Regions from separate parts of the Homo sapiens genome. Here region 2 is linked to region 1. Evidence: fine-mapped expression QTL. A gene starts in region 1. The other region holds a variant in brackets. All regions are shown on one strand. Distances are from middle to middle.

Region 1 (8,368 bases):
CTCTCTCAGGGAGCTGAAGCTGACCAGGACCACGCTGATGATGAAGAGCAGCATCCCCTTCCACAGTGTGTCCAGGTAGTATTCGAGCACGAAGACTGGGGGTGGCGCGGCGCGTGAGGACGCCCCGGCCCTGCCCGCAGCCGGGGGTGGCGGTGCCAAGGCTTGGCCCGGACTAGCTGGGTCCGCGCAGGGCTCGCGGAGGCGACGTCTCGCCTGCGGCCTCTCCGTCCCCAGGAGCACCGGCCGGCCCCACCCAGGGCCCTGGCCCTGCCTCTGCCCACCTGGCTCCGCCCCATTCAGGCCTCGGGCCCGTCTCCCTCCTCCCCCGCCCCGCCCTTCCCAGCCCCGCCCCGCCCCGCCCCGCCCAGCCTCGCGCGCACCGTTTGGCTCCTGCTGCACGAATGGGTAGAAGCTATTGTTCTTGAGGCGTCTGGCCAGGTGGCGCTCCGGGCAGGTGAGTCCTAGGAACCAGAGCTGGAAGCGCCAGCCGATGGAGGTCGTGGGCAGGCTGCCGGCCCGGCCCTTAGGCATCTGAGTCAGGCAGAGGTGGTCAGCCTGGCCGCTCGTCCGCTGCCGCCGCCCACTGCCCACAGCGGCACTCCTACCTCGGTGAGCAAATTCTCCAGGGCTGCAGGCCCAGGAAGGAGCAGGAGCTCACAGGCGACTGACAGGGCAGCGAGGCCAGGGAGCGGCCCAGGGTGGACCGCGGATGGGTTCTAGAAGTTCTGGGCAGGTTCTAGAAGGGGCTGCTCTGTTGACCACCTCTTAGGGAGTCCAGGGTGAGGTCCTGCGGTAGGCATTAACTTCTTGGCCAGTCCATCCACTGGAGGCCCCCTGTATGGCCTGTTCACAGTCCCCATGTGAAGGGTGGATGGGTGGACACCCTAGGCCTGAGCTGGAGAGAAATTTGCAGGCGGCGACCACTCAGTGAGCCCCACAGCTGGGCGGGGCCCCACCCCCTCCCACCCCCCACCCACATGCAACCACAGACAAGCTCACCAGTGTCCCCGAGGACGGAACACACACACTGGACCCAGCAGTGGGCAGGCAAAGGCATGGCCACCTGCAGGCTCAAGAGCCCATGGGACCACCCTGACCCCACAACACACAGGCTCTGGGCCGGCTGTAGCCCCAGTGGCTCCATCAGGTATAACCTGTTGCCCAACCCTACCCTGAGGACCACACACACAGAACTCCTAAAAATGTTTTATTTTAACAAAATGCTCAAATATCTGAAATTGGGCAAAGGTGGAGGGTGGGCAAGCTGGCTGAGGTGTCCCAGGTCTGTGGCTGCCTAGCTGGGTGAGGGGCTGGTGAGCAGCTGCTCCAGACACCACTGGACTTCCTCCAGGCCCCGGTAGGCCCGCTTCAGACCCCGGGGAAGGCAGCGGCAGGACTCCAGGTTGAGGTAGAGCAGGCCCGGGCAGCCGCTGATCACAGAGCTGTGGGGAGGGCAGACCACAGGAAGTTGAGCTGTTGCCTCAGAAGGGCTGGGCCAGGCTAGGGAGCTGTGCCTGCTGGTGTTCGACACCTGGCTCTGCCACCCATAGCCACCAAGGCCAAGCCCAGTTCCCCTGGTGTCCTCAGGCCCACCCCACGCAGGGGCTTGGACAGTATGCATGCCCCTCTGACCCCTGGAGGTCTCAGGCCAGGCAGGACACAACTTCCAGGCCCCAGGCAGACACAGTGACAGCCACACTGGCTCCAGGGACTGGGGTAGGGGATGCTGACCTGACAGTGCTTGGTGTGACCCGGGTGCCCCTGAGGTTAAGAGAGCACAGGGCTGGGTGTGAGCCCCCAGGGGTGCTTAAGAAGGCAGCCAGGGCCTGCTCCAGGTCCTTCTCACTGAACCCCTGGCCACTCAAGTCCAGTTCTCGCAGTGTATGGCACCACTTCTGGGTCAAAAAGGGGCTGCCCTCCTTGGCTAGAGTCAGCCGGTCTGACGTGCCATACAGGCCCAGATGAAGCTGCTCCAGCTCTGCAGTGAAAGGAGTGAGCATAAGCTACAAGGTGACAAGGGCCCCCACACCTCACCCGCCCGGCCACCACCCAGGACTGCTGACCCCGACATGGCAGATCCTGAAGGCCAGCCGGCGTGATGCGCGCACAGCCACGAAGATCCAGTAAGCGCAGGTTGGGAGAGCCGTGGAGTAGGCGGCCCAGGACCTCGTTGCTCACAAAGTTGCAGGTTGAGCTCGCCAGGCAGAGCTCCTCTAGGCTAGGGAAGCCTGGTCCGGGAGCCACCCCTCGTCCCGGAGGCTTGGGCAGCCACATCAGGTTCAACAGCCGCAGCACCTGGGGGCAAGGTCCAGGCTGTAGATGGGGGAGGGTGTGACAGGTGGGAGAGGCAGGGCGCCAGGTACCTGGAGCTGAGGGCAGCCTTTCTGCAGAGCCTCGACAGGCAGCTGAAGGGGAATGCTATTACGGTTGATGCCGGTGCTCACCTCCAGGACCTGGAGCTGGGGGCAGCAGCTGCCCTGCAGAGATGGGGGGAGGGGGTAGGTCACAGGGTCAGTGGCCTGGCAGTCCCCAGCTCAGCATCTGCCTCTGCTCCCACCAATGCCAACTTACCAGCAGTGCGCCCAGGATGGCTGTCGTCTGGGAGCTGTAGGTCAGCCACAACTTGCGCATTCGGGACCCTGCCTCCTCCAAGAAGCTCACCACAGCTGTGGACTCCACCTGGGGCCCCAATACAAGAGCACCCGTCACCCCGGCCTGGGTTTTTTCAGGGCCCCTTGGGACACAGGGCTCACCATGGAGTGCTGTAGGTCCAGGCTATGGAGCTGGCAGCAGGCTTTGGCTAGCATGACCAGAGCGTCAGCAGTCACACCGTGGCAGCCGGAGAGCTTGAGGAAAGTGAGCCGAGGACAGCACTCACCTACCAGCTGCGGGGAGACAGAGGGGCAGCTGGGGTTGGGAGACGACAGGCTAAGATCCACAAGGGAAACAGACAAGTGGCTGGTGCCAACCCCACTCTACCGCCTTAGCTGTGACCTCCTTTCTGCCCATGCCAGGCCTACTTGGGTGTCCCCGCCTCTGATACCTCCCTGCTGGAGGAAACAGCAGGAAAAGAGAACCAGGCAGGCAGGCAGACATCCCCACGGAGCAGCGTTGGGCCCCCAAGGTGCCTGACCCACTTCCTAGAGTACTGAACAGTCCCAGAGTGTCACAGCTGATGTGCAGGACAGCCTGGAGCTCTCACCTTCAACACGGGGTGTACCTGAGACTTCCAGTGGATGAGGGTCAGCCTCTGGAGCTGTGAAAACCTGGGCCGACAGCGGAGGCAGAGCTGCACTAATGTTCCCACACGAGTCCTTCCCACCCAACACCTTGGTGCAGGGAGACGGAAGGAGCCTGGAGCCAGGGGTAAGGAAGAGAGGGAACCCCTCACCGATTGGGCATAAGCCACTCCAGGGAAGCAAGGAGCTTCTTCTCCGCCTTGACCCCGCCCTTGGCAGGCCGGCCGACCAGCGGGGACGACAGGGTCACGGTGTGCCAGAGCGCGGGTTGGGAAGCGGCCTCCTGCCAGCGGCGGCACACGCGCGCAGCCCTGGGAGGACAGCGTGCTGAGGGTGCCGGCCCCTCCGTAGGCGATGCCCCCCTCTCGCAGCGCAGTAGACACCCCGGCTCAAAGCCGGGCTCCTGGGACTCCAACTGGGCGCCTAAGGGGCTGCGCTCTCGGACTGAGCGGTGCGCGCTCCGATGCTTTCGCCCTCCGCCCCCGCCCGGGCCACCGCTCGGACCACGTCTGGCCCAAGCCGCTACGCTCGGCGGCGGGCCCGGCACCAGCGTTACCTGCCCAGGAAGGGCATGGGGCCGTCCGCCGCCACCAACAACCCGAAAATCTGCACCAGGATTTCCAAGGGAATGCGGTCTCCCCAGCCCGCGTCGGGCCCTTCCTCGGGCGTGGGCGTGGGTGCCGGTGCGGGTGCGGGCGCGGCCGCCGCCTCGGACCTGAGCCCGGCCTTGGGCTTGGCCGCGGCGCTGGGGCCCCGGGGCGGCTGCCGGGGAGTGCGGCGGGAAGCGCGCCGCTGTGCGCGGGGCCGGGCGGGGCCGGGTTCGGACAGCACCAGCAGCATGCTGTCGGACTGCAGCAGGTGGTACCCCGAGCCCCTCGGCGCCAGCCGGTCCCACCACCAGTCCTCGGCCGAGCGGGGCCGCGGCGCTGCCCGGGCTCTGCGTCGGACCTGCCGGGAGGCTGGGGCAGCCATGACCACCGACGGCGCTCGGGGAAGCCCCAGGGAGCGGAACGGGCGAGGCTTATAGACCGACAACCCCCCGGTTCCTCTCAACGCCCGCCCGCCCGCCGACCAGCTTCCGGGGCGGGACTTCCGGTCGTGGGCCATGCCGGGGGCGGGCCCGGAACCGCCACGGGTGAGTCGGGTCGTGGCTGCTGCCGGGTCCTGCGCGCTCCGGACTGAGGTGGCGTCCCTGGGCCGGACGGCGGTGTCCCGGCGTGGCGGGAAGCCGGCACTGGAGCGGGAGCGCACTGGGCGCGGGACCGGGAGGCGCAGGGACCGGACGGCTCCCGAGTCGCCCACCTGACGGTACCGAGAGGGCGGCGCCCCTCCGAGCAGAGCCGTCCCGGCCACTCCCCTGGGATCTGACTTGGCTCTTGCGGTCGCGGGCACCGTGAAGCCCTGGGGTGTGCGTGGCTCCTCCTGGTAGGCGCCCTTTCCCGGCGTCCGGCTTGGGGTGGTGGTGGCGTTGACTCCAGCCCCGCCTCTCCCTGGAGAGGAGGGCTCCACTCGCTCCTTCGGCCTCCTCCCCTGGGGCCGCAGCGACTCGGGCCGGCTTCCTGCTTCCCTGCCTGCCGGCGGTCCCGCTGGGTACGTTTTAGCCAATCCTCCCCATCTGCGCTCCTGCCCGGGGCTCCCCCAGTTCCCCTGGTCTCACCCTGTTCTGACTCCGGCTCTGCATCCTATCTGTTTCTCTGTTTCTTTCAAGCTAGAAGAAGTCTTCACTTCCCAGGAGAGCCAAAGCGTGTCTGGCCCTAGGTGGGAAAAGAACTGGCTGTGACCTTTGCCCTGACCTGGAAGGGCCCAGCCTTGGGCTGAATGGCAGCACCCACGCCCGCCCGTCCGGTGCTGACCCACCTGCTGGTGGCTCTCTTCGGCATGGGCTCCTGGGCTGCGGTCAATGGGATCTGGGTGGAGCTACCTGTGGTGGTCAAAGAGCTTCCAGAGGGTGAGTGGGAGGGAGGTGCAGGTGTGCCCAAGACTCCTGGGCTGCGGTCAGTGGGATCTGGGTGGAGCTACCTGTGGTGGTCAGAGAGCTTCCAGAGGGTGAGTGGGAGGAGGTGCAGGTGTGCCCAGGAAGGTGGGCTTTGGCACTCTTCCTCCCTTGGGCATCATGACCCTGACATGGCCTCCTCCCTTCCCTGCAGGTTGGAGCCTCCCCTCTTACGTCTCTGTGCTTGTGGCTCTGGGGAACCTGGGTCTGCTGGTGGTGACCCTCTGGAGGAGGCTGGCCCCAGGAAAGGACGAGCAGGTCCCCATCCGGGTGGTGCAGGTGCTGGGCATGGTGGGCACAGCCCTGCTGGCCTCTCTGTGGCACCATGTGGCCCCAGTGGCAGGACAGTTGCATTCTGTGGCCTTCTTAGCACTGGCCTTTGTGCTGGCACTGGCATGCTGTGCCTCGAATGTCACTTTCCTGCCCTTCTTGAGCCACCTGCCACCTCGCTTCTTACGGTCATTCTTCCTGGGTCAAGGCCTGAGTGCCCTGCTGCCCTGCGTGCTGGCCCTAGTGCAGGGTGTGGGCCGCCTCGAGTGCCCGCCAGCCCCCATCAACGGCACCCCTGGCCCCCCGCTCGACTTCCTTGAGCGTTTTCCCGCCAGCACCTTCTTCTGGGCACTGACTGCCCTTCTGGTCGCTTCAGCTGCTGCCTTCCAGGGTCTTCTGCTGCTGTTGCCGCCACCACCATCTGTACCCACAGGGGAGTTAGGATCAGGCCTCCAGGTGGGAGCCCCAGGAGCAGAGGAAGAGGTGGAAGAGTCCTCACCACTGCAAGAGCCACCAAGCCAGGCAGCAGGCACCACCCCTGGTCCAGACCCTAAGGCCTATCAGCTTCTATCAGCCCGCAGTGCCTGCCTGCTGGGCCTGTTGGCCGCCACCAACGCGCTGACCAATGGCGTGCTGCCTGCCGTGCAGAGCTTTTCCTGCTTACCCTACGGGCGTCTGGCCTACCACCTGGCTGTGGTGCTGGGCAGTGCTGCCAATCCCCTGGCCTGCTTCCTGGCCATGGGTGTGCTGTGCAGGTACACAAGGACCCCCAGCCCCTGTGCGGGTGGAACTCAGGGCTAGGAGCCAGGTCCTGGCGCAGTCAGCCCTGACATTCTGCTCGCTCACTGCAGGTCCTTGGCAGGGCTGGGCGGCCTCTCTCTGCTGGGCGTGTTCTGTGGGGGCTACCTGATGGCGCTGGCAGTCCTGAGCCCCTGCCCGCCCCTGGTGGGCACCTCGGCGGGGGTGGTCCTCGTGGTGAGCACAGGGGGACATGAAGTGGGGTGGGGGGGCGTTGCCCTGGAGCAGGCACATCTCACGCTCAGCTGGTGCTGTGTCCCCCTCAGGTGCTGTCGTGGGTGCTGTGTCTTGGCGTGTTCTCCTACGTGAAGGTGGCAGCCAGCTCCCTGCTGCATGGCGGGGGCCGGCCGGCATTGCTGGCAGCCGGCGTGGCCATCCAGGTGGGCTCTCTGCTCGGCGCTGTTGCTATGTTCCCCCCGACCAGCATCTATCACGTGTTCCACAGCAGAAAGGACTGTGCAGACCCCTGTGACTCCTGAGCCTGGGCAGGTGGGGACCCCGCTCCCCAACACCTGTCTTTCCCTCAATGCTGCCACCATGCCTGAGTGCCTGCAGCCCAGGAGGCCCGCACACCGGTACACTCGTGGACACCTACACACTCCATAGGAGATCCTGGCTTTCCAGGGTGGGCAAGGGCAAGGAGCAGGCTTGGAGCCAGGGACCAGTGGGGGCTGTAGGGTAAGCCCCTGAGCCTGGGACCTACATGTGGTTTGCGTAATAAAACATTTGTATTTAATGAGTTGGCATTAATTCTTTGAGCACATCTCTCTGTGTGGATGCTTCCCTGAACTAGAGCCATGGCCTGGCCTGTTTAACAGGCTGCCTCTCCCCAGGCCCTGGGCAGGTCCTTACCCACCACAGGCTGGTCTCACGGATTGTACAGTCATGCCCTCTGAGCCCAGACTACCCCACATTGCTTCTTGGAACTGCCCTGGGCTCTCTGGGCCCACACGAGCTACCAGCTTCGGTGGTCAGAGGAGTAGAGGAGCCTCTTCCCGGCAAGGCCACTGCTCCACGAGCACCTCTCAAGGGCTGAGGGTTAGTCGGATGGGGCTGCGATGTGCCGAGCCCCCTGTCCACCCTTAGCCCTGGAGTGACTGTTTGCCTGCTAGCTTCCCAGGAGTATCCTGCTAGGGATTTACACCAGGGGGTTGGTGTGCAGGCACCGGGGTACTCAGTGAGGGGGACTCAGAAGAGACAGAGTTTAAGGTTTTAGCCCATCGGGACCGTTTGGCCTGAGCATTACCCCACTCCCCTGAGCCTCCACCCTCTCAGTGACAGCTCCTCCTGCAATCAGACCCCCAAAGGCCCCAAACTGTTTCTTCAGGCAGACTTGGCTACAGCTGTCTTCTCCCTGGGCTGCTGGCACACTGCCCCTAGCCCTGAGCAGCCTGGGCCTGTATGTGTTGGCATCTGCAGGGAGCAGGACCTCAGCACTGACCATGGTCTATCCTGGGCTGGGTGGTTCTTGGGCTCCCACAAAAAGAGCTGGAGCTGCAAAGGAACTAACTGAGAGGAGCCCCTGAGCCTGGGAGCAAGGATCTGGAAGAAAGTGCTGGGAGAGACCACGCCAAGGTAGGAGCCTGGCTTTCTTCACCTCGTGGGCCGCCACCCCAGGGAGGCAGGACACCGAACTGTGATCAGTATGACGGGCCTGGCAGCAAGGCCCATTCTCCCAGGCAAGAGGCCCCACTTCTGCAGAAGGGCCCCTGCAGCTACAGGGAGCGTGCAGGCACTGGGGATGGTGGGTCTGTTCCTGCTGCCCAAGCTCTGTCTGCGACGGTTCCGCTCTGCGGAGGCCCTTTCTCATTGTCCTTGAGTTGGCCTGCACACGGGCCTTTGAAGGCCTGGTCTTCCTCCCCACTTCTGCTCCCTCCTGTCTTGGCAGGACCATCAGAGGAGGAAGGAGCCCCTGTGACCCGGAAAGCCTCTAGTCTGGGCCCCATCAAACATCAGGGGGCAGGCCAGCTCCCAGGGGGGCTCAGGACCACCCAACTCTGAGGGCAGAGGCCACTGCCAGCTCCAGCCTTCCAGGATGCTGCCGCCTGAGGCTGGGCCCCTGCCCAGC
Region 2 (8,230 bases), 38 kb after region 1:
TCTCCTCTCCCCAGATAGCAGAAAAGCTCATCAAGGCCTTTGCTGAGCAGATATTTTACACCGGCTTCATCCACTCGGACCCACATCCTGGCAACGGTAGGAATTTACCCCAGGGGTGGGGGTCTCAGGGTGGGCGCAGCGCGACCTAAGAGGCTGTATCCCTAGTTCTGGTGCGGAAAGGCCCGGACGGGAAAGCGGAGCTGGTGCTGCTGGACCACGGGCTCTACCAGTTCCTGGAGGAGAAGTGAGCGCGGGTGGGTGGGCGTGGGGCAGGGCAAGCCTCTCCTGCCGCAGGGAGCTCATGGCTGCGGGCCCATCCACACCCAGGGACCGCGCAGCCCTCTGCCAGCTGTGGCGGGCCATCATCCTGCGGGACGACGCCGCCATGAGGGCGCACGCAGCCGCACTGGGGGTGCAAGGTGAGGGCGTGCGGGGATGGCTGGGGCACCACAGAAGGGAGTCGGGCGGCGCGGAACCCACTCAGAGCCCCCTCCCTCCCTCCCTCCCTCCCTCCCCAGACTACCTCCTGTTCGCCGAGATGCTCATGCAGCGCCCCGTGCGCCTGGGGCAGCTGTGGGGCTCGCACCTACTGAGCCGCGAAGAGGCGGCCTACATGGTGGACATGGCCCGCGAGCGCTTCGAGGCCGTCATGGCGGTGCTCAGGGAGCTGCCGCGGCCCATGCTGCTGGTGCTGCGCAACATCAACACCGTGCGCGCTATCAACGTGGCCCTCGGCGCCCCCGTGGACCGCTACTTCCTTATGGCTAAAAGGTCGGTGGCCCGAGGAGGCGCCCGGGCCGTGGTGGGGCTGGTGTGGGGCTGACGCGGCGCTAACGCGGGTGTGTGCAGGGCTGTCCGGGGCTGGAGCCGCCTGGCGGGCGCCACGTATCGGGGTGTCTACGGCACCAGCCTCCTGCGCCACGCCAAGGTCGTCTGGGAGATGCTCAAGTTTGAAGTGGCGCTCAGGTGAGTGGCCGCGGGGCAGGTGGGTGGCGGGGGCCTGCTCCCCACCCACCTGTGACCTGTGACCTGACCCACGCAGGCTGGAGACCTTGGCCATGCGGCTGACCGCCCTCCTGGCTCGTGCTCTGGTCCACCTGAGCCTCGTGCCCCCAGCGGAGGAGCTCTACCAGTACCTGGAGACCTAGGGTGCAGCCGCCCAGGGCCGGCGGGGCCCTTTTCACCTTGGGCTGACGGAGGTGGCGGGGCTAGAGGTGTAGACACCCCGAGCCCCGTGGGCACTCGCACTGGGGGGCTGTGACAGCAGCTGGGCCAGGAGGCCGTGTAATGACCACACACTCCTCTCAAGCAAAAAATGTTTTTCCTTGTGTTTTGTACAAAAAGGGGGTGGGAGGTAGTTCCGTGTGCTGGTGGTGACGGCATCCACGGGGCTAGAAGTGGGCGGTGACGCGGTCCGTCTCCAGCAAGTCGTCCAGGATCTGCAGGGGATGGAAGGGTGGGTGGGTGGGTGGGTGGGGATGCACACGGAGGGGCGGGGCGCGCGGGGGGCGGGGCGCGCACTCACTATGTCTGGTGTGGTGCCGATCTTCTTGGCTAGCTCGCTGCGCTCCATGGTGCTCAGGTACAGGTAGCGGTTGAGCAGCTCCCCATCCAGCACGTTGCGCACGGCATTCTGGAGGGTGCGGCGGTCCACGTGCAGCATCCTGGGGCGTACAGGCACAGGTGTCAGGGCAGGCTGGGGTGGAGGGGGTGCTGCACGGGGGCGGGGCCGGGGCTCACCGGAAGGCGCGGGGGTTGAGGCCGGCGTGGTGTGGCAGCATGGTGGTCAGCGCGTTCTGCAGCATCAGCAGCCGCCGGTAGGTCTTCTCCTGCATGGGCAGCAGCAGCCCGATGCCGCCGTCCAGGGTGGCTGGCAGGGGTAGGGTGAGGGTTTTGGTGTGAGCCAGGCCAACCCTAGGGCCCCCCACCCAGACACACCTGCTCCCCCACACTCACCAAACCACGTGATGTGCTTATTCTCCCACACGACCGACTTTTTGCTGAGCCCTTCAGTGGCCCCCCGGCACGGGGTCCTCCAGAACGTGTTCACGTGGGCACCCACGTGGAAGTCTGCCCGACGCAGCAGGCGCATGCCCCCGAAACTCTCCTTGGCTAGACCAGAAAGGCCTAGGGGTCACTGCTAGCCCAGCCCCGGCCCAGGCAGAGGGGGTGGAGGAAGCACTCACCTTCGGGCAGGTACATGTACACCATGAGGTTGCGGTCGCGGTCAGACACTGGGGAGCAGAGGCCCAGGGTCAGCCCCGGCCACCCCCAGAGCCTCAGCTCCCCAGGGCCCTGCCCACATACCCAGAAAACCCAGCTGGGCATTGTCCACCATGAAGTCCACGCTGTACACCTCCAGGGGCTTGGCATCCTGGGGGCGGGAAGGGGGCGTCAGAGGTGCCTTGGGCGGGTACCCACCCAGACACGAGCACCGCCGCCACAGGTGTACCCGCGACACCAGGCTCAGCGTCTTGCTTTCCTCCTGGTAGCGCAGCAGCGAAATGCTCTTCATGACGTCGGCTGCCAGGATGAAGTTCTTGACGCTGATCATCTGGTGTATGTAGAGCTGCGTGTCGATGAAGGCCATGCCCGTCAGCTCGCTGGCCCGCAGGCTCCACAGGAAAATCTGGGGGCGAGGGCGAGGGTGAGCGGGCGCGGACGGGGAGCCGGGTGAGGGTGAGCCGGGGGACACACGCCGGGTGGGACTGGCACACCTTCTGGCCGATGGCCGACACCAGGTGGCCATTGCAGTGGCACAGGGCGGTCACGGGCCCCTTCTGCTCCTTCTCGTAAAGGACTTTGAACTTGTTCTTGGTCAAGGGCTGGCCAGGCTCGGGCACCACCTCAATCACATCCATGATCAAGATCTGGAGGGCATGGGTATGGCTGTGGGATGGCTGTGGGGATGGCAGAGGGGCTGCCAGTTCCCGCCCCCGCTCACTGGCCCCTTACCCGCCCTCGGCACGTGACCTCCTCCCCCTGCATGAGGCAGGTCCCGGCGGCCACGTAGCCTTTGAGGCCCGACACGGTCTCCTCACTGCGCAGAGACACTGTCTTCATGCAGGTCACATGCTCCCACTCCTGCAGCTCGATCCTGTGGGGGCCAGGGGCCTCAGGATGCTGCCTGGAGGCCTTGGGCAGACCCCACCCCCGCCGGCCCAGCCTCACCTGGCATTGGGAATAGCCTCCCAGCTGACCGGGGAGATGAGCTGGATGGAGAAGGCCTCCTGCTGGGGGTGGATGTACCGCTCATCTGTGGGGACCAAGGGTGACAGTCAGAGTAGGGCTTCCCCAAGATGCGGCTGAGGATGGGAGTATGGTGTGGGCGTCACCACCTCTCTCGATGGTCTCAAACTCCTTCTCCTCGCCAGTCATGCGTGGGATGCGGGCACACGGCGTGTTGGTGCTGGTGGCCACAGCATACACCTGTGGGTTAGTGAGGGTCACACACCAGTGGCCCGGCCAGGCCCAGAAGGTCCCTGGTGGGGTGGGGGTGGGGGCAGACCTTAGACTCCACGTGGTAAGCCACATAGTGGGCCGTGCAGCGCAGCGGGATCTTCCTGACAGGCCATGGGGCATCATAGGACAGGTAGGCAGGCAGGACACTGATCCTCAGCTC[G/A]CCCTGGGGTGGGGGCACAGGGGTCAGGGGATCCAGGGCTAGCCAAGGGCAGGGGCAGGCAGGCCCAGGCCGCCAAGAGCCCTGGGATGTTGCCCTCAGCTCTGTGGGAGCAGGGGTGGGTGAGGGGCAGCTGTGTCCTGGCGAGGTCCTGGAAGGGGCTGCCACTCAGCCTCTGGGGCTCCTCCTGTCCATTTTCCCACGCTCAGCTGGGGCTAGGGGTGCTGGCCACAGGGGATGGGAAAGCTAGGCCAGGAGGGCACTGGAGGCTGCAAAGGGCAGCCCACAGACTGCCATGCTGGGGACTGAAAACCAGGCAGAGGGAGCCAGGGCTGCCCTCTTTCATGGACAGTCCTGAGTCCTCAGGCACCCAGGAAGCACTCACCGCATCCCAGGCAGGGTCTCAAGTGACCTGGTGGTGTGGTGGCTTAAATAGGGAACCAGGATGAGAAAGCCTGTGTGCCCTCCCAAAGTCACAGAGCAGCCAAGGGGCAGAGCTAGCACTCACGTCAGCTCTCCTGAGAAGTGTGGAGGCCAGGCCCTGCGAGGGCTTGCCCGGCGAGCCGGCAGAGCAGTGGTGGGGACCCCAGGGGCTGCAGCCCCAGCTCCCAACCACCCCTTTCCAGACCTTTGGAGCAACCAAGTCACAGGTTCCACCTCCTCGACCTCAACCCCATCGCCCTCTGGACACTCCTTCCTGGTCCTCAGGGTGGAGCCAATGGTCCCTTCTCCTGTCCCCTCCCCCTCAGCCCCCAGCTGGGGCAGCATCAGCCAGTGCTGCTGGGAACCGGCCGGGCCCCACCTGTCTGTTGAAGTACAGGAAGCCGCGGGGACAGTTGACATTGTGGAATGGAGCGAAAGAGTCGACCGGGCCGTCGATGGCCATGGGGTGTAGCCGCAGAGCCCCTCGGCCGGTCACCAAGAGCCAGTGAGGGGAGGGGCCGCAGATGAAGACCTGGGGGCAGGCACCGTGAGGATGCTGTGGATGAGGATGCTGCGGATGAGGCCGCGTCTCCCTTCTACCACAGACCCCTGCAAAGGCGCTGGCCTACCCCTGAGTAGCCATAAATATCCTCGAAGTAGCGGAAACGCGCCACGCGGCCCCGGGCCCCAGCCCCCTCCTCTGCGCCGCCACCTTCTGCTTTCTTCTTGGATGGCTTTGGCTTCTTCTCACGGAAGTTGATGTTGTGAGGGACCTGGGGGGGAACCATGCAGGTCCTCCAGGGGCTGCCGGTCTGAAACCCACACCTTGTACCACACCCACCCCACGCCCCAGCAGTCCAGCCACTGGCACCTTCTTAAAGCGGACTTTGAGATTGCCCTGGCCGAGCTGAGAGTCGTGGGGGAAGGCCTCGTAGATAAGCAGCTCTTGGTCCACATGCACCTGGCAGGATGAGGGGAGCCATGGGGGAACGGGCAGGGCCATGGAGAACATGGGATGGGCCATGGGAAGAGGTGGGCTGTGGGTAAGGGGCGGGGCTGAGATGGGGTGGAGCCATGTATGGGAAGGGGCGGGGCTGTGAGGGAGATGGGGTGGAGCCACGGGAAGGGGCGGGGCCGTGGGGGAGATGGGGTGGAGCCACGGGAAGGGGCGGGGCTGTGGGGGAACGGGCAGGGCCAGGGGGAAGATGGGAAGGGGAGGCCAGGCCAGGCGCACTCACCAGCAGGTAGGGCCTGCTCTGGCGGCTGCCCAGCGCCACCAGCAGCACCTCCTTGACGAGGGGCAGCTCCCCCTGGCGCGTGGCCTCCTCCCTGCGGGCCTCGCCCTGTGTAGTGGGCTGTCCAAAGGAGCTGTCCACAAGGACCCGCTGCCCCACAGGGAAGTTCTTCACCAGGAACACCAGCCGCCAGTCGGGAAGCTGGTAGATCTGCAGGGTGGGCAGCAGTCAGTGGAGGCAGGTGGGTGGAACCCGCTGGGCCACAGTGCAGGGCACCACCTACCTCCATGGTGCCATTCTCCCGCACCAGCAGGCACCAGTGGGTAGGCTCTGCCCGGAAGGGTGCAGGGTCCCGGTCAGCAGGGGGCTGGCTGCTTCTTCGGGCCTCCTCCTTGCTGGGGCTGAAGAGGGAGCCCGAATCCCCATACAGCATCTCCTCCTCGTCATCCACTGTGGGGCTGGGGGCCAGCAGAAGGTCATGGGCGGCCTGCCAGCCCCAGGGACCCAAGCCCCTACCTGCGCCCCCAGCCCCCACGCACCTAGTCTCTGAGCCCAGGCCCTCGGCCTCCGGGCCACTGCGGCCCCCGAGCTCGTCACGGGCCCCACCCAGGCGGCTCTCAGTGGTGAACATGCCGCTGAGGTCTCGGTACAGGCACAGCGTAATCACCTTGGACTGCTGCGGGGAGAGGGGTGGGCTCAGCGGCGGGCAAGGGGCAGGGACAGGAGGGCGCCGGGAATGAGGGGGCCTACATGGTGCAGCGGGGGCTTGTGCAGCGCCAGGCGGTGGTGGCGGCCACCGTAGGAGTCACTCTTCAGCAGGAACATGGTGACGTGGCCCTCGGCACTCATGATGACCACATAGGGGTCGGCCACGGCGCACTGCACGATGGGGGCGCCCAGGTCCACGGGGATGAAGTGCAGCTGATTCACTGTAGGCATGGGGCAGTCAGCATGCGCCTCCCCACCACCGTCCCCACCCACCTACCTCCTTCCAGCAGGCGGATGCCCAGGGCCCAACCACCTCCCCCCCACCGTCCCCACCCACCTACCTCCTTCCAGCAGGCAGATGCCCAGGGCCCAACCACCCCCCCCACCTACCTCCTTCCAGCAGGCGGATGCCCAGTGGTGACACTTGGACAATGTAGCGGTTGTCCCCGATGTTCCCAGCAAAGACCGTGGGGCCCTGAGTGGCGAAGCCACTGGTGTCCAGCTCCATGATCTCCTGCCCCGTCTGCAGGATCTGCGGGCGACAGCTGTGAGGGAGGCGCCCCCCGCAGGGGACCCCAGCCCCAGGTCCCAGGTCCCAGGCCCTGCCCCTCACCATGGTGGAGTCTTCCCGGCTCAGAATCAGGAATCCGTGTCTGCGGCCGTCGTCGTCTGCTTCAGGGGTGGTGCTGGGTTCCTGCTCTGTGCCCTCCCCCTTGGGATTGTCCTCCTGTCAGGGCCAAAGGGGGGCAGGCTGGAAGCCACAGTCCAGTGAAGGCAGGCACGCAGGTGCGACCTGGGCACCCCCGGCCTATGAGAAGGCAGCGCCGGTCCCATCCCAGGGCCTCCCTGCAGCAGGCTCGCACCTACCTCCTCCTTACGCACCGGGGCGATGACTGTCCACATGTCATAGCAGCCGGGAAGCTCAAAGGTTGTCACCACCTGGGGCCGGATGCTCTTCTAGAATGATGATGGGGTGGGGGTGTGATGGGGGTGTGAGCCCACCCAGGTCCCACCAGGAGGCGCCCGCCCCCTACCTGCCCACACACCTGCAGCACCGACAAAGCCCCGTTCTTCCCGTGGCCGGAGCAAACCACAATCTCCAGGTCCGGCTCGGGGCTGTTCTGAAACTGCACAGGACTCGGGGGTGAGGACTATGCCCCCCACCCCCCCTCACACTCCAGCCCCTGCCCCCAGCCCCGACCCCAACCCTGGGCACCTCTTCAGAGAGGAAGGCAGGCTCGCCCACGGCGGCATTGGCACAGGGTCCAATGTTCAGGATGCTGTCACACACCTGCGGCACAGCAAGAGTCAGGGGCCCGCTGGGGGCGCTGGCTGGGACGGGGGCCCTGCTGCCTCAATCTCACCTCAAAGGAGTAGGTGGCCAGCTGTGTTCCCGACTGGGCCTCGCTGCCGTACACTTCAATCTCGTCCACCTCATCCTGCGGCACCGACTTACCCGCAGCTGCACACAGAGAGCCCACTTGAGCGCAGCCCTGGGTCACCTGGCCCCGCTCCTGACCAGCCCTGGACCGGCCCTCACCTGACCAGCCGGCCGTCGCATCCACTCGCTTCTTCTTTGAGGGAGGCTCTTCCTGTGAGGCAGGAGGGGCACTGAGTGGCATGCCACAGCAGTGCCCACATGAAGGGTGGTGGCCCAATGGGCCCAGGAAACCCACCTTGTCGGCAGCCTCACGGACAGCACTGGCCGGGGGCTCCTGCAGCTTCTCCGTGTACTTGAGGAGGAGGGAATTGCCCAGGCGAGAACCCAGGAACAGGTACCCGGGCTCCATGGTGACCATCTGAGGGAGGGCAGGTGTGTGATGGCTGGGCCGGGTCTGGACCCAGACCCAACCCCTAGTCCCAACTCACGCTGGTGGTGAGGACGCTGGCGGCCGCCTTGTCAAAGTGGAACGCTCGGACACTGCGCATGCCGTCGGTGATGAGGGTCAGCACGTAGCTGGGGGCAGGGAGAATTCTGAGTCGGGGATGGGGACCCTGGGGGAGTGAAGGGGGCCAGGGGACCCTACAGGACTTGTGGGGGGCGGTGTGGGCAGAGTTCATGGGCGGGGGAGGGGCTCACATCTCGCCGCCCTTGAGGGAGATGACCATCTTGTCGTAGGAGATGAAGGTGGCCTGGGCGCAGTCCAGGGTGATCCGCACACCCTCCTGGGTGCCTGTGGGGTGGGTGGTCAGGCCGACTAGGCAGGCCCAAGCCGTCCCCGGGCCCCCCCCGCCCCAGCCACCC

What was found. PIP is the estimated chance that this variant, and not a neighbour inherited with it, causes the effect.
Region 2: its variant is fine-mapped to the expression of SLC52A2 in caudate (GTEx, PIP 0.97).

The regions. Positions count from the first base shown.
Region 1 is chr8:144,354,237-144,362,604 of GRCh38, forward strand. SLC52A2 (solute carrier family 52 member 2) reads left to right here and starts at 4,377. Exons shown (of 5, transcript NM_001363118.2): 1 at 4,377-4,829; 2 at 4,948-5,187; 3 at 5,387-6,257; 4 at 6,354-6,477; 5 at 6,567-7,036. The coding sequence starts at 5,058. The coding sequence ends at 6,779. It overlaps CATSPERQ (catsper channel auxiliary subunit theta), which reads right to left and starts at 695. Exons shown (of 6, transcript NM_001280561.2): 1 at 606-695; 2 at 381-531; 3 at 1-95. The coding sequence starts at 531. It overlaps FBXL6 (F-box and leucine rich repeat protein 6), which reads right to left and starts at 4,236. Exons shown (of 9, transcript NM_012162.4): 1 at 3,796-4,236; 2 at 3,392-3,550; 3 at 3,203-3,266; 4 at 2,754-2,885; 5 at 2,572-2,679; 6 at 2,364-2,477; 7 at 2,064-2,295; 8 at 1,732-1,978; 9 at 1,195-1,442. The coding sequence starts at 4,211. The coding sequence ends at 1,295. RefSeq lists silencers at 136-245, 3,959-4,178, 4,199-4,638 and enhancers at 2,092-2,628, 5,850-6,385.
Region 2 is chr8:144,391,927-144,400,156 of GRCh38, forward strand. It overlaps ADCK5 (aarF domain containing kinase 5), which reads left to right. Exons shown (of 15, transcript NM_174922.5): 10 at 15-96; 11 at 166-244; 12 at 328-419; 13 at 519-771; 14 at 850-966; 15 at 1,043-1,316. The coding sequence ends at 1,148. CPSF1 (cleavage and polyadenylation specific factor 1) reads right to left here. Exons shown (of 38, transcript NM_013291.3): 10 at 8,066-8,159; 11 at 7,855-7,942; 12 at 7,662-7,784; 13 at 7,526-7,577; 14 at 7,350-7,447; 15 at 7,202-7,276; 16 at 7,032-7,112; 17 at 6,853-6,942; 18 at 6,599-6,712; 19 at 6,376-6,517; 20 at 6,028-6,206; 21 at 5,817-5,953; 22 at 5,561-5,735; 23 at 5,281-5,487; 15 more. The coding sequence ends at 1,392. It overlaps MIR939 (microRNA 939), which reads right to left and starts at 2,304; the gene lies at 2,223-2,304. It overlaps MIR1234 (microRNA 1234), which reads right to left; the gene lies at 8,160-8,230. RefSeq lists silencers at 2,255-2,416, 3,769-3,982. The variant G/A (reference allele first, on the strand shown) is at 3,623.